Homo sapiens: one gene and its partners. The protein of the gene in region 4 purifies or fractionates together with the protein of the main gene of each other region. This does not show direct contact. Each region holds a gene or a part of one and is shown on either strand. Other genes may lie near its edges.

What was found.
Region 1: the proteins of AIM2 (region 4) and NKX2-4 purify together in Homo sapiens (affinity purification with mass spectrometry; one large-scale study listed by BioGRID and IntAct). This does not show direct contact.
Region 2: the proteins of AIM2 (region 4) and TFE3 purify together in Homo sapiens (affinity purification with mass spectrometry; one large-scale study listed by BioGRID and IntAct). This does not show direct contact.
Region 3: the proteins of AIM2 (region 4) and XRCC1 purify together in Homo sapiens (affinity purification with mass spectrometry; one large-scale study listed by BioGRID and IntAct). This does not show direct contact.
Region 5: the proteins of AIM2 (region 4) and SAFB purify together in Homo sapiens (affinity purification with mass spectrometry; one large-scale study listed by BioGRID and IntAct). This does not show direct contact.
Region 6: the proteins of AIM2 (region 4) and IKZF5 purify together in Homo sapiens (affinity purification with mass spectrometry; one large-scale study listed by BioGRID and IntAct). This does not show direct contact.
Region 7: the proteins of AIM2 (region 4) and SMARCA5 purify together in Homo sapiens (affinity purification with mass spectrometry; one large-scale study listed by BioGRID and IntAct). This does not show direct contact.

The regions. Positions count from the first base shown.
Region 1 is NC_000020.11:21,394,865-21,398,886, reverse strand, and holds NKX2-4 (homeobox protein Nkx-2.4), read left to right. Parts: upstream 1-1,360; 5' UTR 1,361-1,487; coding exon 1,488-1,929; exon of another isoform or gene 1,930-2,024; intron 2,025-2,353; coding exon 2,354-2,976; 3' UTR 2,977-3,522; downstream 3,523-4,022. UniProt on the Homo sapiens protein: Probable transcription factor.
Region 2 is NC_000023.11:49,036,858-49,040,357, reverse strand, and holds part of TFE3 (transcription factor E3), read left to right. Parts: intron 1-947; coding exon 948-1,251; intron 1,252-1,915; coding exon 1,916-2,161; intron 2,162-2,243; coding exon 2,244-2,348; intron 2,349-3,500. UniProt on the Homo sapiens protein: Transcription factor that acts as a master regulator of lysosomal biogenesis and immune response.
Region 3 is NC_000019.10:43,558,528-43,562,027, forward strand, and holds part of XRCC1 (DNA repair protein XRCC1), read right to left. Parts: intron 2,494-3,500; coding exon 2,383-2,493; intron 1-2,382. UniProt on the Homo sapiens protein: Scaffold protein involved in DNA single-strand break repair by mediating the assembly of DNA break repair protein complexes. Negatively regulates ADP-ribosyltransferase activity of PARP1 during base-excision repair in order to prevent excessive PARP1 activity.
Region 4 is NC_000001.11:159,061,984-159,064,375, reverse strand, and holds the end of AIM2 (interferon-inducible protein AIM2), read left to right. Parts: intron 1-701; coding exon 702-890; intron 891-1,657; coding exon 1,658-1,684; 3' UTR 1,685-1,892; downstream 1,893-2,392. UniProt on the Homo sapiens protein: Sensor component of the AIM2 inflammasome, which mediates inflammasome activation in response to the presence of double-stranded DNA (dsDNA) in the cytosol, leading to subsequent pyroptosis.
Region 5 is NC_000019.10:5,643,583-5,647,082, reverse strand, and holds part of SAFB (scaffold attachment factor B1), read right to left. Parts: intron 1,747-3,500; coding exon 1,684-1,746; intron 1-1,683. UniProt on the Homo sapiens protein: Binds to scaffold/matrix attachment region (S/MAR) DNA and forms a molecular assembly point to allow the formation of a 'transcriptosomal' complex (consisting of SR proteins and RNA polymerase II) coupling transcription and RNA processing.
Region 6 is NC_000010.11:123,002,296-123,005,795, reverse strand, and holds part of IKZF5 (zinc finger protein Pegasus), read left to right. Parts: intron 1-3,500. UniProt on the Homo sapiens protein: Transcriptional repressor that binds the core 5'GNNTGTNG-3' DNA consensus sequence. Involved in megakaryocyte differentiation.
Region 7 is NC_000004.12:143,551,702-143,554,843, forward strand, and holds part of SMARCA5 (SWI/SNF-related matrix-associated actin-dependent regulator of chromatin subfamily A member 5), read left to right. Parts: intron 1-1,417; coding exon 1,418-1,483; 3' UTR 1,484-3,142. UniProt on the Homo sapiens protein: ATPase that possesses intrinsic ATP-dependent nucleosome-remodeling activity.

The DNA of each region.
Region 1 (4,022 bases), on a different chromosome or scaffold from region 4:
AAATAAAACAAAATATTGCTTAAGAAAGCACTCTCCTTGTTTTTCTTTCTCCTGCTCCAGTTTCCAGGAAAACTTAAAAGTGTTATCTTTGTTTTCTCGTTATCATTATTATTGCTGCAAGATTGTTTTCAAAATTTAATCAATATGCTTTGCACACTGCTTTTGTCTTATGCTTTGTCTTGTTCAGTATTTAGTAGAGAGTTCATAATGTCTAAGTATTCGGGTAAAACTGCAAGTCAAAGGATGACAAAGTTTTAAAAATCTGTTTATCTATGGTTTTGTATTTTTCCAAAGAAACTACAATTTTCACCTGATTTCTGCATCCATTTTCATATCGCTTGAACAGGTTATATTTTTCCAACAACAACAAAAAGACCCGTTGCGAACAACTAGAAATATTTGGAAGTTTTGATATTTTGTCTTTCTCTTCTTTTTGATCACGGTAGTGATGGGAGAATAAACTTAAGTCAGAGATATTTACTGAGAGAAAGAGAGTAAGAACACACACAAAGGGAAAGAAAGCAGAAAAAACTTTACAAGTGCAAACTCAGTAGGAAACATTTTAGGAAATAAAAATGTTCCCCCTCTTTCCCTTGTTCAATTTCCATCCCCACAGAGGAAAAACAGAATACTTACAAGTTAGCATCTGCGTATTTATCAGTGTATGTGTGTTTTCTCTCTTCTCTGGGCTTGGATACTTTGAGCTAATTTGGAAGTGCCCGTTTGGTTGCCCACAAAATGATGCTTAAGGGTCTAAAAACGCATAAATTAGGGAGCCCTACAATGGCAAAGGACGGTCATTGTACCTCCTCTCTTTATGCGCTCTTACGGTGGGACCCAAGAGCCTTTTTTTTTTTTTTTAACACTTTAGGTGATGGAGCGAATGAGGGGCTGATAACTGGAGAGGACGAAGCAAGCCCCCGCAACACCCTCCCCCCAAACTTAGCAGCACGTTCCCCATTCCGCAATTATACCGGACTTTGGTGCGAAGTCACTTTAGAAAACTGGGATCTGGAAGGGGCCAGGCGCGGAGTCCATGTCTAGCCTCGACGCCAGCCTCCGAGTTTCTATTTCTGGTGCTCGAGGGCTGGGGTAACGGCCGCGGATGGAGGAGCGAAGGATGGGAAAAGCAAAGGATGGGAAAAGCAAAGATGGGAAAAGCAACGGGGAGTGATCTTTCCAAGAAACACCCAACTGCCCCTTTTACCTTTTTTTGCCTCCATTATGGGGCGGGGGTTGGGGGGGCGAGAGAAAAAGATGTCAATGACCATTGTTTGCTCGTTTGGGATGTTGCTCCGCCCCCCGAGTCTGTCGTAAACCTGGCGCCGGACTAAAATAAACCCCAGATCCCGCAGCCCGGGGGGCTCGCCGAGCCGCCGACTCCTCGTCACAGGCTCAGCTGCCGCGGCCGAGGTGGCGGCGACGAGCGGCCGCCGCGTCCTGCCGGCGCGCGCCCCAGGCCCCCCTACCTGGCTGCCCGCCGAGCCATGTCGTTGAGCCCAAAGCACACGACGCCCTTCTCCGTGTCCGACATCCTGAGCCCCATCGAGGAGACCTACAAGAAGTTCAGCGGCGCCATGGACGGCGCGCCACCCGGCCTGGGGGCGCCCCTGGGGGCCGCGGCCGCCTACCGCGCGCCGCCACCTGGGCCCTCCTCGCAGGCGGCGACCGTGGCGGGCATGCAGCCTTCTCACGCCATGGCGGGTCACAACGCGGCGGCCGCGGCGGCGGCGGCAGCAGCTGCGGCGGCGGCGGCCGCCACCTACCACATGCCGCCCGGCGTCTCGCAGTTCCCGCACGGCGCCATGGGCAGCTACTGCAACGGCGGCCTGGGCAACATGGGCGAGCTGCCCGCCTACACGGACGGCATGCGGGGCGGCGCGGCCACCGGCTGGTACGGCGCCAACCCGGACCCACGCTACTCGTCAAGTGAGAGGGGCCAGGAGCGCGGGGCTGCGGGCGGCTCAGGCGTTTCCCGCCACAGCCGAGGGGCGCGGGGGCGCGGGACGGGGTGCGCGCGGCTTAGGAGGTCCTGGGGCCGAGCGGGCGCGCGGGGCGTCCTGGGACGCGGCCCGGGACGCGCGGGGTTTCTGGGGACCCTGGGCGCGCGGGGGGTCCTGGGACCTGACCGGGAACGCGCGCGGCGTCCTGGGACCCGTTGAGGGCGTGGTGCTCTGGGACCCGCCGAGGGCGCGCGGGGCGTGCTGGGGCCGGAGGCCGCGGCGGTCAGGGGGTCTTGGGATTCAGCGAGGGCCCGGCGGCGTCGCGGCCGCGGCGTGAAGAGAGCGGCGGCTGGACCGGCTCCCGGCGGGCCTGGAGCTCACTCGCCTTCCCCCTTGGGACTCTTCCCCAGTCTCCAGGTTCATGGGGCCGTCGGCGGGCGTGAATGTGGCCGGCATGGGGTCGCTGACCGGCATCGCGGACGCCGCCAAGTCGCTGGGCCCGCTGCACGCGGCGGCGGCGGCAGCCGCTCCGCGAAGGAAGCGCCGCGTGCTCTTCTCGCAGGCGCAGGTCTACGAGCTGGAGCGGCGCTTCAAGCAGCAGAAGTACCTGTCGGCGCCCGAGCGCGAGCACCTGGCCAGCATGATCCACCTGACGCCCACGCAGGTCAAGATCTGGTTCCAGAACCACCGGTACAAGATGAAACGGCAGGCCAAGGACAAGGCGGCGCAGCAGCTGCAGCAGGAGGGCGGCCTGGGCCCGCCGCCGCCTCCGCCGCCGTCCCCGCGCCGCGTGGCGGTGCCTGTGCTGGTCAAGGACGGCAAGCCGTGCCAGAACGGCGCCAGCACGCCCACCCCCGGCCAGGCCGGTCCGCAGCCGCCGGCCCCGACGCCAGCACCTGAGCTGGAGGAGCTGTCGCCCAGCCCACCCGCGCTGCACGGCCCGGGGGGCGGCCTGGCGGCCCTGGACGCGGCCGCCGGGGAGTACAGCGGCGGCGTCCTGGGCGCCAACCTGCTCTATGGCAGGACGTGGTGACAGCGAGGGCGCCCCGGGGCTAGGTCCTGGTGCACCCGAAGGGTCTGCAAGAAACTGCTAGAACGGATGGGGGAGGCATGCGAAAACCGACTCGCGCGTGTAAACTGCGATTCAAAACGAACCGGTCTCAGAGAGGAGCAGGCTGTGAACCTCTTGCTGGGGGCGGGGGACAGCGACAGCCCGGAAACCGAGTAGTGTAACATTATGCCACGAGGCTTTGAGGTGGTGATTTTCTCCTCCTAGAAGTTCTTAAATGACGCGAAAAGGTGGAGAAGTTCACACGGCATTCTTAACTACAGCTCTCAAAGTTGGAAACTTTGTTGGCGTTTGTAACTATAAAAATCAACCCAGCTTTAACAATCAGTCCTTTTTGAAGTGGAATTTATCTTGGGAGATTAATTTTCGAAGGGCCCCCTAAGTGCAATTTCATTAATGTTTGATTGAAAGTAAATTGAAGTGTAGCTCAAGGTGGATCATACACATAGCAACATTATTGCAGAGGAATTATTGCCATTTAGGTAATAGAGCAATGGAATCAAAATAAAATACTGATTATATGGATTGATGGAGCTTTTTAAATTTAATGCTGATTTCAAAATGTTTTGATGATTATTTGGCAAGTGAGTGTTTGTATGTTACGCTAAAAGAGGATTTTCCCCCCTAAGATGCAGCTCACCATAAGAAAGGTTGTATACTATTTGTATATGAAATCTGGTCTCCCAACATCAACTGAGAAAATAAATAACCCTATCCTTCTGTAAACATGGTATTTACTCTCTTTGAGGTATTTTCTTGTCTGAATTTGAATACCTTGATAAAGTACTAGAACAAACAAGTAAAATTTCTAAAATTGACATCAATTAATCTATATTCAAAGCATGACAAGAAGAAGAAAGGTGATTTATTGAATTGTAATCAAGATATAAGGAATAAGTAACTACAATATAATTTTTCCACCATATTTAGAACTTAGGAGTTGCACTGGTTTTGTTGGTGTTTTATTGTACAAATAATGTATTTACTCTTTAATATGCCGATTTATATTT
Region 2 (3,500 bases), on a different chromosome or scaffold from region 4:
TTTCACCAGCCTGCGTTTTCTAGGTGGTAAAATTAGGGACCAGAAAGAGCATGTCACACAGGAAAGTAGGTGGCCAAGCTAGGATTCCAGTATCTCTGTCAAGACCTCCCCTGCCTGCCCCCAGCCCACCTGCACACCCATTCATATGCAAGTGTTTCAGCCTCAGGTGTTCCAGCCGGCCTGGAGTGCTCAGAGATAGGGCGTGGCCTGCTTAAACTCATGTCCCCGGGTGGGCGGGGACATGCCTCTAGCCCCAACTCAGTCCCTTCCCACACTACCAACTCACCCACCCTCAGCCCTTGAGGAGCCCCTGCTGGTCTCTTCTTTCCCCAAGCTTGGAAGTCTAAATGTGCTGAGTCATCGGCCCGGGCTCTGAGAGAGGGGAGGGGAGGGGGAAGAGGGGCAGGAAGAGAGTATTGTGAAATCTCCGAGGTTTTCAAGACTGACTAGCTCCTGGGACCAGAGGCCCAGGCAGGGGAAGAAGAGGAACCTGGGGCTTCTCCTATCACCTGACGCCCACCCCCAGGAGCTCAGAGAGCTTCTCTAGCCTCACATTGGGCTTAGGAGCCCTCTGTATCCACATTCTGCTGCCAAAGCCTCAATTCTGCTTCTTCTGCTCTCCTGTAAATAGGACAAACCCCCCCTTGCAGAGCTGAACAATAGCATCTCCACTTAATATGTGAACAGGCTCAAATCTAGGCTTCACCATAAGGACCAAAGGCTAAAACTCCCCCACCAGACTGACCTCCAGTGTGTCCCCCATCAGACTGTGACCCCTGAGAGCCATCACCAAGCCTGGTTCCTGTGTCTCTGCTTCTACATTGTGGCCTCGGAAGGCAGAGAACAGGCCTGGTTCCTGTGTCTGCTCCGTCACGCTAAGACCCTTTAGGCTTGGGATGAGACTTTTAGCTTACCTAAAATATGGCCCCATATTTCCCATTCCACAGCCTCCCAATATCACTGCAGGCCACACCAGCCACCCCAGCTACACTCTCTGCATCGTCTTCTGCAGGGGGCTCCAGGACCCCTGCCATGTCGTCATCTTCTTCATCGAGGGTCTTGCTGCGGCAGCAGCTAATGCGGGCCCAGGCGCAGGAGCAGGAGAGGCGTGAGCGTCGGGAACAGGCCGCCGCGGCTCCCTTCCCCAGTCCTGCACCTGCCTCTCCTGCCATCTCTGTGGTTGGCGTCTCTGCTGGGGGCCACACATTGAGCCGTCCACCCCCTGCTCAGGTGCCCAGGGAGGTGCTCAAGGTAAGGTGAGATCCAGAGGCCCTGGGAGGGGGCTCCTGGTGACTGAGGAGTGATCCTAGGAGCTAGGGATGGCCTCGATGCACTGGTGATTTGGGGGCAAGGTCTTAGGGGCTCTAAGGAAGGTCCCTGGTACTGTTTAAATTATCTGTGTTCATGTCTCATGTGTTTTGGGTTTCTGAGATGATCTTGTGAAATTGCGAGGAGTTCGTGGGGGCCATGAGGATGTCTTGGTGGACCATGGAGGCTCATGAGTGCCCCAAGTGGGCCCTGGCTTTGTAGGAAGAGCTTCATGTGTGTGGGATACATTAGTTCTTTGGCCATTAGGGGGTCTTGGGAAGCATTGTATGGTTCCCAGGTCTATTAGGTGGTGTCAGAGACTAGGTGGGGAATCTTGGGGACTGTGACAGGGTTTTCCAGAAACTACGAGGGATCCTGTCAGTCATGGGTGGATCTTGGCAGCTGTGAAGGATTTCTGAGAAAGAGAGTTTGGGTCCTGGGGGAGACTCGCTAATATTTTTGGGGTGTTCTCAGATTCTGGGCCCAGCTTGTCTGCGTGAGTCTAGGCACCAATGAGTTAGGAGGGTCAGGCTGGGGCTCAGAATTCACCCCTTTGAGTCCTGTTCTGCCTTGTCCCCTCTCTTTCCTTGTCTACCTTATTTCACAGGTGCAGACCCATCTGGAGAACCCAACGCGCTACCACCTGCAGCAGGCGCGCCGGCAGCAGGTGAAACAGTACCTGTCCACCACACTCGGGCCCAAGCTGGCTTCCCAGGCCCTCACCCCACCGCCGGGGCCCGCAAGTGCCCAGCCACTGCCTGCCCCTGAGGCTGCCCACACTACCGGCCCCACAGGCAGTGCGCCCAACAGCCCCATGGCGCTGCTCACCATCGGGTCCAGCTCAGAGAAGGAGGTAAGAGGCTACAGCCAAACCTCCTCCCACATTCCCCTCCCAAATTCTTCTAAACCTGTATAATATTTACTTCTTCCCCTAGATTGATGATGTCATTGATGAGATCATCAGCCTGGAGTCCAGTTACAATGATGAAATGCTCAGCTATCTGCCCGGAGGCACCACAGGACTGCAGCTCCCCAGCACGGTGAGGCCCTGAGATGGGAGGTTGGTCTGAAAATTAGGGCATTTCTGTATCACCAAGACCATACTCAGTCTGGCTGTGTGTATAGGAGACCCTTGCCTTGATTGTGCTAAGATAGAGAGGGAGGCCTTATGACGAGAACAGGGTATGTCAACAATGCCTTTGGACCTTGTTGGACTGTGTTGAGAGGTGGACCATGTAGACTGTGAGAGATACAGGTGGGGAGTTCACTGAGACAGTAGGGCATATCAAAGTGCTTGGGCTTTGCTGTGAGAAGTACCAAGAGATGATAATCTTTTTTTTTTTTTTTTTTCGAGACGGAGTCTCGCTCTGTCACCCAGGCTAGAGTGCAGTGGCGCGGTCTCAGCTCACTGCAACCTCTGCCTCCCAGGTCCAAGCGATTCTCCTACCTCAGCCTCCTGAGTAGCTGGGATTATAGGCACGTGCCACCATACCAAGCTAATTTTTCTATTTTTAGTAGAGACGGGGTTTCATCACGTTGGTCAGGCGGGTCTTGAACTCCTGACTTCGTGATCTGCCTGCCTCGGCCTCCCAAAGTACTGGGATTACAGGCGTGAGCCACCACACCCGGCCGAGATGAGCATCTTATAGCAACTTGAATGTACCAAGGGATTCAGGTCATCGGGACATATACACCAGACCATGTAATGATTGGAGCATTTTGTTTTATTTTATTTTTACCTTTTTTTTCTTTTAAGACAGAGTCTCACTCTGTCACCCTGGCTGGAGTGCAGCGGTGCGATCTTGGCTCACTGCAGCCTCTGGGTTCAAGCGATTTTCGTGCCTCAGCCTCTCACGTAGCTGGGATTACAGGTGTACGCCACTACGCTTGGCTAATTTTTGTATTTTTAGTAGAGACCGGGTTTCACCCTGTGAGCCAGGCTGGTCTTGAACTCCTGACTTCAAGTGATCCACCTGCCTTGGCCTCCCAAAGTGCTGGAATTACAGGTGTGAGCCACCACGCCTGGCCTTGAAGCATAACAAAAGTTTTCAAACTTGCTGTGGGTTATAACAAGTAGTTGGATCTCGTAGTGATTGGAATATACCAAGTGAACTGTGCCAGGAGGCAGAGTCCTTCTAGTCAGTAGATAAAACTTTCTAGAGCAAGGGATATACCATTGTAACATTCTGGTT
Region 3 (3,500 bases), on a different chromosome or scaffold from region 4:
CTGAGGCGGGAGGATCACTTGAGCCCAGGAGGCAGAGGTTGCAGTGAGCTGAGATCATGCCACTGTACTCCAACCTGAGCAACAGAGTGAGACCCCCATCTCAAATAAATAAATAAATAAATAAATAAATACATATATACATAAATAAATAATATGGTTAAAAAAAGAGACAGTTTGGTATTGGCATAAAGAAAACTATACATATCAATGGAACAGAGAAGAGAGTACAGAAATAAACCCATACATATGGTTAATTAATTCTCAACAAGGAGTCAAAATGATTCAATGAGAAAAGGCAAGTCTTTTTTTTTTTTTCAAAGTATTTTCAGCCAGGTGCAGTGGCTCAGGTCTGTAATCCCAATACTTTGGGAGGCCAAGGTGGGAGGATCACTTTAAGCTCAGGAGTTCAAGACCAGCCAGGCAATGTAGTGAAACCCCATTTCTACAAAAAATTTTTTAAAAAATTAGCCGGGTATGGCGGCTCACACCTATAGTCCCAGCTACTCAGGAGGCTGAGGCTGGAGAATCCCTTGAGTCTGGGAAGCGGAGGTTGCAGTGAGCCAAGATCATGCCACTGCACTCCAGCCTGGCCAACAGAGTGAGACTCTGTCTTAAAATAAATAAAATAAATAAATAAGCATTGTCAACAAACATATAAAAAAGATACAGAAAAGGGCCGGGTGCGGTGGCTCACACCTGTAATCCCAGCACTTTGGGAGGCTAAGGTGGGCAGATCACAAGGTCAGGAGATCGAGACCATCCTGGCTAACACAGTGAAACCCTGTCTCTACTAAAAATACAAAAAATTAGCCGGGCATGGTGGCACGTGCCTGTAGTCCCAGCTACTCCGGAGGCTGAGGCAGAATGGCGTGAACCCGGGAGGTGGAGCTTGCAGTGAGCCGAGATCGCGCCACTGCACTCCAGCCTGGGCAACAGAGTGAGACTCCATCTCAAAAAAAAAAAAAAAAAAAAAAAAGATACAGAAAAAATAAACCTTATCCCCTGCTTCACACAATACACAAAAATTCACTTGAGATGAAACAGAGATCTAAATGTAAAATCTAAAAATAGAAAGCTTCTAGAAGAAAACATAGGAGACAGGCAGAATAACAGCTCCTCAAAGATGTTTACATCCTAATCCCTGAACCTGGAAATGTGGCAGAAGGCACTTTGCAGATGTGATGAACTTGAAGATGTTGAAATGGGGGAGATGCCCCTGGATTATCCGGGTAGGCCAAGTGTCATCATAAGGGTCTTTATAAGAAAGGAGGGCTGGGTGTGGTGGCTCATGCCTGTAATCCTAGCACTTTGGGAGGCTGGGGTGGGTGGATCACTTGAGCCCAGGAGTTTGAGACCAGCCTGGGCAACACAGTGAAACCCTCTCTCTATAAAAAATAACAAAAGCTAGCCAGGAGTGGTGGTGTGCACCTGTAGCCCTGGCTACTTGGGAGGCTGAGGTGGGAGAATCACTTGAACCTCAGAGGCAGAAGTTGCAGTGAGCTGAGAACACGCCACTGTACTCCAGCCTGGGCAACGGAAATGAAACCCTGTCTCAAAAAAAAATGAACAAAAGAAAAAGAAGGCCAGGCGCAGTGGCTCACGCCTGTAATCCCAGCACTTTGGGAGGCTGAGGCGGGCAGATGACGAGGTCAGGAGTTCGAGACCAGCCTGGCCAATATGGTGAAACCCCGTCTCTACTAAAAATACAAAAAAAAAAAGTTAGCCGGGCGTGGTGGTGGGCACCTGTAGTCCCAGCAACTCGGGAGGCTGAGGCAGAAGAATAGCTTGAACCCGGGAGGCAGAGGTTGCAAGGAGCTGAGATCGCGCCAGTGCACTCACTCCAGCCTGGGCGACAGAGCGAGACTCCGTCTCAAAAAAAAAAAAAGAAAAAGAAAAAAAGAAGGCAAGAGAGTCAGAGTTGGAGAAGTAACAATGGAAGTGGAAGCAGGCGTTAGAGTGACAGGAGTGCTGGCTTTGATGAAGGAAGGGTCACAAGCTGAGGAGGGCAGATGGACTCTAGAAGCTGAAATAGGCAAGGAAATGGATTCTCCCCTAGAGCCTCCAGAAGGAACAGGGCTCTGCCTACACCTAGATTTTAGCCCAGTGAGAGTGATTTCAGACTTCTGACCTCCAGAACAGTCGAATAATACATTTGTGTCATTTTAAGCCATGATCCAAACTTGCTCTCTTCCCTGATGTGCAGTTTACCGCCCTGTGTCTGCCTTCTGTCTCCTCCGTACACTGGGTGATCCTCCAGAGGGCAGCAATCAGGTGTGACTCACATCTGCCCCATGTCTTCCCAGCCCCAGCCCCTGGGGGAGACGGTGATGCGAGCATGAGGGGCAGAGGTCAGTATGGGATCCATCTCATAGCCCTGCTTACCTCATAGTCTTGCTCCCCAGCGCCTCCAGCTGAACTGCCCACCAGCACCTCCACGAAAGCTGAGCCATCATTCCCAATGTCCACACTGTGTATCTGCTCCTCCTTCTCCAACTGTGGGCAGAGAGAGAGGCCACTGTCAGTGCCTGCTCTGCCTCTGGGCTCACTGTGGGACCTCAGGATGAATCTCCTTTGGATCACCATGTCCCTGTAATGTCAATTCTGTGAGGGGGCACACCAGGGTTGAATGGTGCCATGTGTCCCCTCCATGCAGCACAGGGTATGGCATGGAGCAGAAACTCACAAAATAGTCACTGAATGAATGCATACGCGCCCACCTCACACATACCTGCTTCCCTGACCTCTCCAGACTCCACCAGGTCAGCTTATCACACACTGCCATAGAGCTCTCCTTGATAAGCACTTGCCAGAGTTATAACTTTATTCAAATCATCATGCAGACAAACAGCACATGTCACCCCTCACCCACAATCGCAGAGGACTCCAGGAAACCTCCCTGAGGGCAGGGGCTTTGTCCGATCTTGCTCACCGCTGGTTCCTGGGTTTGAATCCCAGCTGTGCTGCACACTAGCTGTATGACCATACCAGTTAACCTTTTGGAGCCTCAGTTTTCTCATCTGTAAAATGGGAATGACCACCATATCTAGGATCATGCACATAAATAATGGCCACAGGGCATGGCGAAGAGTAGGCAATTATCTGCTGTCAGTCAGGAGGTATTATTAGTCAGTGCTAGACAACTATTTGTTGAAAGAAGAAAAGAGCTACCTATAGGAGGGCTCATCTCAAAGGATCTGCCATTCCTGTCTGACAGATGAAGATGCAGAAAGCCGTGCGGGCCATGCGGGCACGGGAGGCAGTTAGGTTGAGGCAAGTGTCCTGCCTTCCAGTTTGGGGCTCTTTTATTAGGATCCTAGAATGACGCATTATTACAACTCTCAAAGGTACCTGGGCCAGGTGCAGTGGCTCAAGCCTGTAAATCCAGCACTCTGCGAGGCCAAGGCAGTGGACCACTTGAGGCCAGCCTGGCCAACATGGCAAAACCCCTTCTCTACTAAAAATATAAAATATAGCCGGGCATGGTGACACATGCCTGTAGT
Region 4 (2,392 bases):
GCAGTTGTTGCTTCTATGGGCCACCCTGGCCTCCTCCTAAAGGAAGGGAATTTAGGACTGGAAAGATAGGCATAGGAGACAACATGTTCTAAGTAAGACACGTCTGCCTCCTCTGTGTGAACTTGCTAACATCTATTAGATATATACCTGCTAGTTTCAAAGCAGAAACATTTTTTCAAGTTGTCCCTTGAACAATGTAGGGATTAGGGCTTCTGACCCTGAGCAGTTGATAATCTGCATATAATTTTTGACTCCCCAAAAACTTAACTGCTTAATAGCCTACTCTTGATCAGAAGACTTACGGACAACATAAGCAGTCACTTAACACATATTTTTGTGTTATACATATTATATACTATATTCTTAAAAAGTAAGCTAGAGAAAAATGTTATTAATAAAATTATAAAAAAGAAAATATACTAACTATTCATTAAGTGGAAGTAGATCATCATAAAGTTCTTCATCCTCATTGTCTTGATGTTAAGTAGACTGAGGAGGAAGAGGAGGGTTGGTCTTGCCATCTTGGGGTGGCAGAGACAGAGGAAAATTCCCATATAAATGGACCTGCACAGGTAAAATCTGTGTTGTTCAAGAATCAACTGATTTCTTTTTAGAGCCTTCTTCTGGCATGTCTGATGTGTGACTGATGCGGCATTCATTAATCCGATTATCAGAGGCTGGGTGTTGATTTTCTTTTATAGGTAACAGAAAAGAAGAAAAACATATTATTTGACCTAAGTGACAACACTGGGAAAATGGAAGTACTGGGGGTTAGAAACGAGGACACAATGAAATGTAAGGAAGGAGATAAGGTTCGACTTACATTCTTCACACTGTCAAAAAATGGAGAAAAACTACAGCTGACATCTGGAGTTCATAGCACCATAAAGGTGGGAACTGCATGGAACAAAGTCAACTCTCCAAGGGGGTGATATTTTTTGTTTTCTATCAGAAAGCCGGACTGGAGCCATTGAACAGGATATAGAGTGGAAGACATTGATATTTAGTACACGTTCATCTCACAGAACTGAGGAACCTCCCTCTTAGGAAACATGTATTCTAGATACACAGTTAAGAGAACATGGGCTTTTCAAGGCAGAGGCGCATATTGTTGTGCCCACAGAGCCCAAAAAAGAGCTCCTTATTTATACTACAAGTCTAAAGCAGAAAGCTTGCCCAGAGTCGGAAAAGTCATTCTGACTAATGTCTTTGAAAGTAGACAGACAATAAATACTTTGAGGACACATTTCCCTAGCCAGTCCCACCACGTCTGCACCTACCATAGTCCAGTGCAGTTAAGTCCATGTAAACCCCTACTCTTGACCTTCCACCACACCCTCCTACCCGTGTCCTGCCACTACTTGGTGCTCTTCCCCAGGTCTCAGTGTTGGTTGCACTGCCTGCTATCTCTGTAAGAGTGGAGGCCAAGATTTGAGAAATATGCGTATGTGACCTTGCTAAGTGGGAGTGTATTTCTCAGGTCAGATATTCACTTCAGGAGTATGATCCAAGGCAGACCAATGTATTAGAAGGGTGGGAACAAAATAATTTTATGAGAAGATGATACATACACTTCAGAAGGCCATAGTGACTGCAAACAGTGGAGGGGCCACTCATCGACTGCATCTCAGACTGCATGTTTTTTTTCTCCATCCAGGTTATTAAGGCCAAAAAAAAAACATAGAGAAGTAAAAAGGACCAATTCAAGCCAACTGGTCTAAGCAGCATTTAATTGAAGAATATGTGATACAGCCTCTTCAATCAGATTGTAAGTTACCTGAAAGCTGCAGTTCACAGGCTCCTCTCTCCACCAAATTAGGATAGAATAATTGCTGGATAAACAAATTCAGAATATCAACAGATGATCACAATAAACATCTGTTTCTCATTCATTACAGTCCCACTATCTCCTTTAGTTTGTCAATCCCTTGTCTCAAGCGAAAATACTTTATCAATGTATTATATGATGTTTATACAAATTTAAAAGTAAACTATATGACAACAATTGCACAAAATACAAGAGGGAAGAATTAGGAGTACACTGTTAGAAGATCCTGTACAACATGTGAAGCAGCGCAGTATTATTTGAAAGTAGATACTGAATAATTAAAGATGTATATTTTGTCCCATAGGGCAATGATTTAGAAATATTTTAAAAGGTATAGAAATAATAACACAATTTTGTGTTATTGGAGAAAGAATAAGCATAAAGCCCAATGGAAAACTAGAGAGCCAAAACTAGGCTTGCACATTTACAGTCTATTGATTTCTACAAAAGTACAACACAGTTCAGTGGAGAAAAGACTAAAAAAAAAGCTACAACAACAATTAGATATCCATACTTAAAAAAATGAATCTGAGCCATTCCTCACTCTTTATACAAAAATAAACT
Region 5 (3,500 bases), on a different chromosome or scaffold from region 4:
GTCAACTGATGGGCACTGACTAGGTTCCAGGCACAAATGTAAGCACCTTACATACACACAGACTCGTCATCGGTTGCAGGAGGTTGGTCCTAATGGTAGCACCCTTCTTTTTACAGAGTAACAGACTGTGACCAGACAGACTGAGTAACTTGCCCAAGGACACACAGCAGGTGGGAAGCAGAGACAGGCTCTGAGCAAAGGCCGTGTATGAGTGTGAGTCTGCACTGTTAACCATCAGGCCAGGCCCCACGAGCATGGGGACCACCCTTCCTTCTCATTCATCTATGTAATGCTGGTAGTTAATGCCACACCTGACACATCACAGGGGATTCACATATACCCAATAAGTAGGTGTGACTGAATTATAACTTCCCCTGGGAACTGCCCTGCCATTCCAGGATGCTCTATGAAACTGTACACTTTCCTCATGCTTTCACTTATTTTTAATCAGTTTTTTCCCCATGTACCCTACCCCATGCTGGGAATTCTGACCATAGGACTGAAGCAAATCATCAATGTTGGCAGAATAATTCTTCCTCATTTTCTCTAAAGAGAAGCAAATACATTCCTATTTGTTTAGGAGAGACTGTAGGTTTCCCATTTTAACATGGGAGACTGTGACCAAGAAAGAGCCAGGGGAAAGTGACAAGATCCGGCTCCTCCTCTCCTTTCTGAGTCGGGAATGGCCGTGTCAATTTGCAGGTGGAGAGACGGCAGCTCTAAAAGCGAACTGGGTTTCACCACGTTTTCTTGAGATTTGTGCCCTCCTCAAGGTTGGAGCTCTGGCTTTCCAGTATCTCCCTTGCCCTTGCATGGCAGAAGCAAATGGAGATCTTTTCCAAAAGGGGATTTCTAATTACAATAACATAGATGACATTTAAAAAGAAGACGGGAAAAAAAATAAATAAATAAAAAGGCTGGGCAAAAGCTGGCTCGATCTTCATTTCTCCACAAAAAGTTCTCCTAAGAATTAGCCAGCTACCTAGGTAAGTGTGTTCTAACAATTTGTATCTATGTAGGCTGGAAAAAAAAAGGAAACTCAAGACCCACAAATATAAAAATCATACCTGGAAATTCTCAACTCATCTGTTCTCATCTAAGATTTAATATTTACAGAGATGCCAATGAAACAGGTAGGATGATACAGTCATTAAATGAAATCTGGGCAATTTCAGAAAAAACAAAACAAAAACAAAACAAAACAAAACAAAAAAAACTTCCCAAAGACAAGACCAGAACCCCTGAGACCCCACCTTCCCCAACAGGGCTCTGTCAACCCTCAATCCCCATCTGGGCCCTACTCATCTTTCCCAGGTAGCCATGCCCTCTTGCTGTCTCATCAAATCATCTTTCTGCAGGGGATGCCACCCAGGGTAGATGAGACAGGCTGCCTTCCCCTGCCACAAGCAATGAAATTAAGAATGCCACAAAACATGACTCTAATGACTGCTGGTAAGCCACAGCGCTTGGAGGCCACTCGTCGAAGCCTAGAGTTAAGTCCCTGGCAATGCGTACATTATATTTGGAGGAAAGCAGAAAGCAAACACCCATTAACGATCCTGACAAAGGAAACAACCCTTGTGGTGATTATTAGCTGGAACTGGCATATGGTGTCTGAAATGGATTCCAGAAATTGTGGTCTGACCTTTCATTCTAAAAGTACTGAGACATACAACAGTTTACCTGTAATATAGTGAAGTCAGATGATGAAGTATCTAAATTGTTTATAGTTTCTTTGTCCTCTATCTGTAAAATAAATGGAGAAAATACAGTTCATCACACCAACAATAACGTAACATAATGGTACATCTGTACAATGAAAAGTGAACAGCTATGAAAATAATTCACAACAAAATTTTAAACCCAGGGCAGAAATCAAAACACTATTATAGTATAATTGCAGCTAAACTGAAAAAAAAGTTGTATGTAAATGTCCACCTGCACATAGACTAGGAAATCTACTAATATGGTAGCTATGTAGGTTTTAAGATGCAAAAGAAAGAAAAAAAGTCTAAGTCAAACAGAAAAGAGATGAAAATGAGTGCACAGCCTCTAAGTGGATCTGAGCACAGGGTGAGGGCTGTTCTTCCAGGAGCAATGGCTAGAGTCCTGCTGAAGTGGAGCCTTCAGCCACCGCTGCTCGCCCAGCCTGGATGCTGAGGATGTGGGACCTGCTGCCCCTGGGGTAGGTACCTCCCTCAATGGAACAGCATCTCCCAGCATGAGGGTGAGGACAGGAGCTCGAGACTGGCAATATCCTATGCCCTACTTGCAGGGGAAGAATAGCTTTTATTCTAAGAAGTAGGCTCTGCCCAATAAGGCAAAGGATTCCCCAAACAAAGAAAGGGGGTTCAGATAATTTGTGACTGAAACCAATTTTGGCCATCTGCTCTAAAGCCCTGAAATTTGAGATATACTTAGGGGGAGACGTTTTCAGATATTTTATAACCAGCATGTATTTTTATCACTATATTTCACTAGGAAAGACACGCACACGATCAGAAGACTCAAAAGGTACAAAAGCCCATTCACTGAAAACCACTCTCCACTACTCCTTTCTTCCTGCCATGCAGTGGTCATCGCATATGCTACACACGTGTTTAAGTGCCAAAGACCATCTCCCCTTAGACATCTGCACCAGGGGCAGCACATCATTCTGAACCCTCCCCAAGTGTCACTTCTCTTTTGGAGATTGTTTGAGTTCACACAGATGTGCTTAATTCATTTTGATGGTTACACTGCAGTAAAAACTGTATTCGTGGTGGTACATTTCATAACTCTACGGTGCTTTCTAGATGCTAGGCATTGAACTAGGCTGGGAAACACTTTGTTGGAGCTGCCTAGTAAATTCTTCAGGAATTGTAGAACAGATGAGTCAGGACTCCTCTCTGACACTAAAGCACAAAAGCAGCCATAGACAACAGTATCAATAGGTGTGGTTGTGCTCTCAGAAAACTTCATTTACACCATGAGACCCTGTCTTGAAAAAAAGCAAAACAAAGCAAAAACAAAAAAACCCCAAAACAAAAACAAAACAAAACAAAAACAACCCAGGTGACAGCCAACTTGATGACTTCTGCTTTAAGTGTATAATAAACATCCATCCATTGAATCTTCCGAAAACCTCTTGCAAGTGAGGAGCAGAGGTTAAGGAGTTTGTCCAGGGACACACAGAAATTGATCCATCTCCAGAATCTACCTCTGAACTCTTTTTTTTTTTTTTTGAGAGTCTCACTCTGCCGCCCAGGCTGGAGTGCAGTGGCACAATCCTGGCTCACTGCAACCTCCACCTCCCTGGTCCAAGTGATTCTCCTGCCTCAGCCTCCTGAGTAGCTGGGATTACAGGTGTGAGCCACTGTGCCCAGCCAAGCCACCGCACCTGGCCTCAACCCTTAAAACTAAACTGCTTCCAGGCATTTAGGATGTTTCCAGCTTTTGTTGCAGAATGTATGATTTTCTGCTTAGGAGGGAAAAAAACAGCCTTAAGAAGATGCAGCCAT
Region 6 (3,500 bases), on a different chromosome or scaffold from region 4:
GATCAGGTATCTGGGGAGGGCTTGCTTTCTGATTGTATCCTCTCATGGCAAAGAGCAGAGAGGAAGCAAGATCTCTGGATCTCTTCACAAGGCACTAATCCCATTTAGAGGACTTCACCTTTACAACCCAATTATTTCTCAAAGGCCCCACTCCAGATGCCATCAAATTGGGGGTTAGAATTTCAACATATCAGCTTTTGGGGACATAAACATTCAGTCCATGACGATACCAGCAGAAAGAGTACATCTGAGTTGTAATAACACCACCCACATCTGTAATAATACTGGAGAATACTTAAGTATATTTCTTGTTCAGATGACATGATATCATACATTGAAATTTTGTGTTAAGTAAGTAATTTTTTGGCTAACAAACACCAAGGTATTGAGTTCATGTCCAGTATAGGAAAGATACCACTAAAAAAATTATAGCTTGTGGATTTTCTAAAGTATATTTTGTTATGTTTGCAAAGGTTTTAAAATTTATCAATGCCTTAGAGGCATCTCTGGGTATCAGTTAATTTGTGGAGTTCCTAGATTAAACTTTGAGACTTGAGACTGATGATAATTACATCAAAGACAGGAAAATGGCTCAGATAGAAAACCTTTATTTTCTTTCTATAAGAGGAAGTCTTTTGTAGTTCCAGAAATTTTTTTTTTCTTTTAAAAATTAGAGATGAGGTCTCGCTCTGTTGCCTGGACTGGTCTTGAACTCCTGAGCTCAGGCAGTCCTCCCACCTTAGCCTCTGAAAGTGCTGGGATTGTAGTCATAAGCCACCATGTCCAGCCCAGTTTCAGAATTATTACTATTTTTCAATTTATTATGCTTAGAAATATTGACTTGAGATGTAGAAAGCTGAGTTTTGAGCCGAAGACTCTACTTCACTTTAGGCACCTTTCATTCATATATGTCTCTACTATAGACTAGGGCTTTGCAAGCACCTGTCATACCCTGTGTATATGGATATATGGGATAGAGGCCATACAGGTCAAGTGGGCACAAAAATGCTTAGGGACGAAATGACACCTAATTTTTAAATCATGACAGGATGTTTAAGGTTATAAAGCATACTAATATATTTAAAATTCTAATTTAAGAAGAGTTTTTCTTCATGTTTGCAATGTTACAGTGTTCTCTATTTCATAGACATGCTTTTTTTTTTTTTAAGTTTATCATGCATTGTGGTTGAAAAGCAGCACACAATTTATGGCAAGGAACACAGTGAAGTTTATAATGTGACAATGTGATAATAGCCAAGACTGTCAAAATATGCCAGCCATCCTCTGTAATTAGGCTCATTTGTGTTCTTAAACTTGAGATGCATGTATAAAAATATCATTTTCTTCTGCTTGCTTTCTGGCAGTCTTGTGTGTTTTTACTGCACTGTCACGTTGTACTGTAGCAACGTTATGCTTTCTAATCAAGATTTGGTAAGGATTATCTTGCTTCCAGAAGCCTGTCAAAGTATATTCAGACATTTTCCAGGAGAAATGTATAGTTTTCATGTGAACTGATTGGCAAGAAGTGATGCTAAGTTACAATGTAAATACTGGGATTTCTTTCTTAATTATAGCTTTTATAATTAGAACGCAGACAATCTGTAGGGCTATACAGCTTTTACAAATTAAAAAAATATTTTCCCAGATCTTATTCTTGATAGTCTTTTTCACTGGAGCTGACTAGCTTACATTTTCCCACCAAGAGCAAATTTAAAGGACAGATAATCAGCACAATCAACTGTAGTCACAAAACAAATAGTAACACAATGATAAAGAAACAGAGAACTAGTTCAAATAAACATGATAAGATGGGGAAAAAAACAACGGAAACAAATGTGTTCAAAAGCCAACAATAATCCTTAAGATTCAGAAAGCTGAGCCAGACTAAAGCAAGTGATTTAAAGAGGTGGCCTATAAGTAAAATAAGCAAAGATCTGTTTGAGAAATTGCAAAGTGATTTGAAAAATTGCAAATTGGAATTACTTGAGACTAAGGTGGAACATGTTTGTTTCGTTGTAACTAAGAAACAGATGCTCAGTATATTTTTCAACCACGTTGATGAACCCATAGAAAAAGGGGAATAACGGAATCAGGGGTGGTGAGAATTTTAAAATCTAAGTTATAACCATTTTTTCTATTTGCTACAAAAATAATTATTAGAAAAATAGCCGCCATTTTCTGATAGCCTACCATATGTGATACATGTCACAATATGCTTTATGTATACTTACCTATAAAACTTAAGATAGCACTGCAAGTTGGATTATGATTCCATTTTACAAAATAGGAAACTAAGGCTGAGAGAGGTCCCTGTTCATAGTCTTAAAGTTGTCCCTCCATATCTGGTAGGTACTGGTTCCAGGACCCCTGTAGATAGCAAAATTTGCGGGTGCTCCAGTCCTTTATATAAAATGGCTTAGTATTTGCATATAACTCACAATCTCATCCTCTTGCATACTTTAAGCTCTAGATTATTTATAATACCTAATACAATGTAAATGCTATGTAAATAGTTACACTGTATTGTTTAGGGAATTATGACCCCCCCCCCCACAAAAGTCTGGTGAAACCCCCTCTCTACTAAAAATACAAAAAATATCAGCCGGGTGTGGTAGCGGGCACCTGTAATCCCAGCTACTCTGGAGGCTAAGGCAGGAGAATTGCTTGAACCTGGGAGGCAGAGGTTGCAGTGAGCCGAGATCACGCCATTGCACTCCAGCCTGGGCAACAAGAACGAAACTCCGTCTCAAAAAAAAAAAAAGAAAAGAAAAAGTCTGTACGTGTTTAATATAGATGCAACCATCCATTTTTTCCAAATAATCTTGTTTTGCAGTTGGTTGAATCAACAGATAACAGAACCTGTGGATATAGAGTTGACTATACTCTACTTGTCCAGAGGATAAACTTTCAGTAGTCTCAACTTCCTAGACAATTTTCTAAAAAATAGGCTTTTCTACCTGAAAAGGGGTAGTAATACTAATAATGTTTTGGTTTTTTTTTTTTTTTTTTAGACGGAGTCTTGCTCTGTCTTCCAGGCTGGAGTGCAGTGGCACAATCTCAGCTTACTGCAGCCTCCACCTCCTGGGTTCAATCAATTCTTCTGCCACCACGCCTGGCTAATTTTTTTGTATTTTTAGTAGAGACGGGGTTTCACCATGCTGGCCAGGCTGGTCTCGAACTCCTGACCTCGTGACCTGCCTGCCTCGGCCTCCCAAAGTGCTGGAATTACAGATATGAGCCACCGTGCCTGGCACTAATAATTTTTTTTTTTTTTTTGGAGACAGAATTTTGCTCTGTCGCCAGGCTGGAGTGCAGTGGTGCGATCTGGGCTCACTGCAACCTCTGCCTCCCGGGTTCAAGCGATTCTCCTGCCTCAGCCTACCGAAAAGCAGGGATTACAGGCGCCTGCTGCCATGCCCGGCTAATTTTTTTGGTATTTTTAGTAGAGATGGGGTTTCACCATGTTGGCCAGCATGGTCTCCATCTCTTGACCTCGTGAT
Region 7 (3,142 bases), on a different chromosome or scaffold from region 4:
ATGTAGATGTATGGACTTTACGGACTTATCTCTGGGTTCTCTGTTCTTTTCCACTGTTGCACTGATCTATGTATCTGTTTCTATACCAGCACCATGCTGTTTTGGTTACTATAGCTCGGTACTATAAGTTAAGTCAGGTAATGTGATTCTTCCAGTTTTATTCTTTTTGCTTAGGGTGGCTTTGGCTATTTCTGGGTGTTCTGTGGGTCCATATAAATTTTAGTATTTTTTTTTCTATTTCAGTGAAGAATGTCATGGGTATTTTGATAAGGATTGCATTGAATCTGTGGATTGCTTTGGGTAGTATGGACATTTTAACAATATTGAATTTGCTAATCCATGAACATGGAATATCTATTTTTTTGTGTCTTCAGTTTCTTACATCAGTGTTTTATAGTTTATCTTAGAGATCTTTCGCTTCTTTGATTAATTCCTGGGTATTTTATTTCACGTGTAATTACTGTAAATGGGATTACTTTTTATTTTTCACATTCTTCACTGTTGGCATAGAAATGCTACTGTTTGTTGTATGTTGATTTTGTATCCTGCAGTGTCACTGAATTTGTTTATGAGTTCTAATAGTTTTTTGATGGAGTCTTTAGGTTTTTCCAAATGTAAGATTATGTCATTTACAAATAGGGCAATTTGACTTCTTTGTTTCCGATTTAGATGTCCTTTCTTTCTTTCTCTCGTCTGATTGCTGTAGCTAGGACTTCCTTGAAATACTTAAAAAGTACAAATTTAGCTTGACTGGGTTGTGTGGGAAAAATCACTTCTTGATGATATGGTAGTCCTTAATATGGGGCTTCGTGAAAATCAGGAAAGTATGTCTCGTAAATGTCAAGTGTGTACACATCTCATTGAGAATACAAGTTATAATTTTAGAATAATTTAAGAAACATTGGAAAAGCAGTGGTATTATGACTTTTACTGTTAGTCTCTAAGCTTTGATTATTTCAGTGATGTTTTAGCAATGTGAAGGCAAACACTTAAAGGGAAAAAATGTTATTTAATAATAGTTAATTTAATAAAAAATGGTTAATTTATAAAGTCATGAATAAATGAGTATCTCTGGATAATATTTGGTACTTATGTAACTGCCTTTTAAAAACTCAAGTGTTTCTTACTATTTTGGGAAGCTTGCATTTATTTGATATTGATCTACTACTGTTAATTGTGCATTAGTTTTATAACGTCATTATTAACATTAACATTTTTTATTCTGTAAGTAAAATAAGTAGGTAAGATTATTTGGAGGCTTTATAGTTTGCTTTGAAAGATTTATATAGCCTGGGGGAAAAGTCTCATACCTATTACTTTGTAGTAGTTGTTATTACTAAAGTGTTATAATGTGTCTGCAACTATATTTCATGTTTATATTAGTCTTGTGAAAAGTAATCCTTCTGTCTGTTTGTAGACACAGAAACGTAAAATGGATGGCGCACCTGATGGTCGAGGAAGAAAAAAGAAGCTGAAACTATGAATATGTTTTTGTTTCATAATCACTAACTTTAAACCAGTAGTTCTTTAATTTACGGGTCTTCATAAGATGTACTGTACAATGCTCAATTGTTATGTCATTTAAAGACATCAGGTTCATCTGTTTACTGAGCTAGAAACATAGTATGTAGTTTCACTTTTTTAAATGCAACAGCTGTGCTGAAATTTTTTTATCATTAACACTTGAAGTAATAAAATAGGCTTCATTTATTACTAAGTGTTTCATTTGATTTATTTTTCTATTGTAGTTCCATTTGTGAAGATTGTGACTTTTTGTTTATTAGCTATAATTTCTACACTTGTAAGGCTTAAAAACAAGTTAAAAAGAAAATTGCAAATAACATTTGTCCCTTTCAGTCTTCACCTAGTTGTGTAATTATTTTAATTCACTTTGCCTTTGCAGAAATTTGGGTATTTTCTTTGTAGTGCTATTGAGTCTCATCTGGAAAGATTATATAAATTGCATTCTCCTTGCTTATGTGGGTAGAATGGGAAAAGAAGGCAAGACAAAGTATACTTAAATTCTATGCATATTTCTGTTATGCTTTCTGTTTTTTTTAGTTGATTCTGAAATGAATATGCCCTATTCTTTTGAAAGAATGGCCTTTTAGTTGTATAGCCAAAGACATTTAGTATTTTCCGGTTCCTTAAGGTATTACTGTACCATTTTGTAAAAGGAATATTATTATTATTATTTTTAATTATTTGGTAAATATTTTGTCATATGACCTTCTGAAGCAGCCACAACTTAGATAATGTCAGAACTAAGGTGATTTTTTTTTTTTAATTTTGAAAGCCCAGCCAAAATGAGGTGTGAATTTGTCATACTGTTACATTGAAATTGGTAACAAAATATATCCCCTCCCATTTGGACTTTTAGGGTAAATGAAAATTTTATTGTATTTTAAAGTAGTTTCTAAGTGTTAGCAAGACTGACTATAATTCCAGTTTCTGTTTTCTATGGACAGACCTGATAAACTGGAGACCCTAAAGCAGGAATACCCAAATTATAGTGTCAGGATTTTAGCTGTACCAGAGGCCTTTATGTGCTACACATAATTTGTATAAAATTTTATATGTGCAGATTGGGTACATAAACAGTTCTCCATTTTTCTAAGGGAATGCAATAAATGTAGCATCGTGAATAAATATAACTTTTATAATCCGTAAAGTGGTCTTTTCTTTCCATTTCTTTAATTGTTTTCTCAATTTTTATTCACTTTTTCCTTTAGGACACATTTCCCTTAATTGGATATCTTTCCCTTAAATTTCTATTAGTAGTTGTTTTCATCTGCCCACATGTAATTGAAGATTTAAAAAAAAAATTTTGATACCTGCAGTATTACTAATACTGCTTAATTTCTTGAAATGTGGAATTGCTGCTGTTAATGTCAAGCAAAACGCAGTATTTATGGCAAATTGTAAAGTAATTTGAATTTAGTGCTACCTCAAAATTAACTTTTTAAATACTATGTTAGATTCTTAACAGTTAAAGGTCTAATACATGCATGAGGAATGGTTACTTATGAAAGGAAAAAGAATTTGTAAGAGTTATCACCTCAGTTTGGAAGAAATTGAAAAAATGTAAGGCTGAAGAAAACTTACGGAGGTCACAAAAGTGATGTTTTCAAGAGGAGGAGAA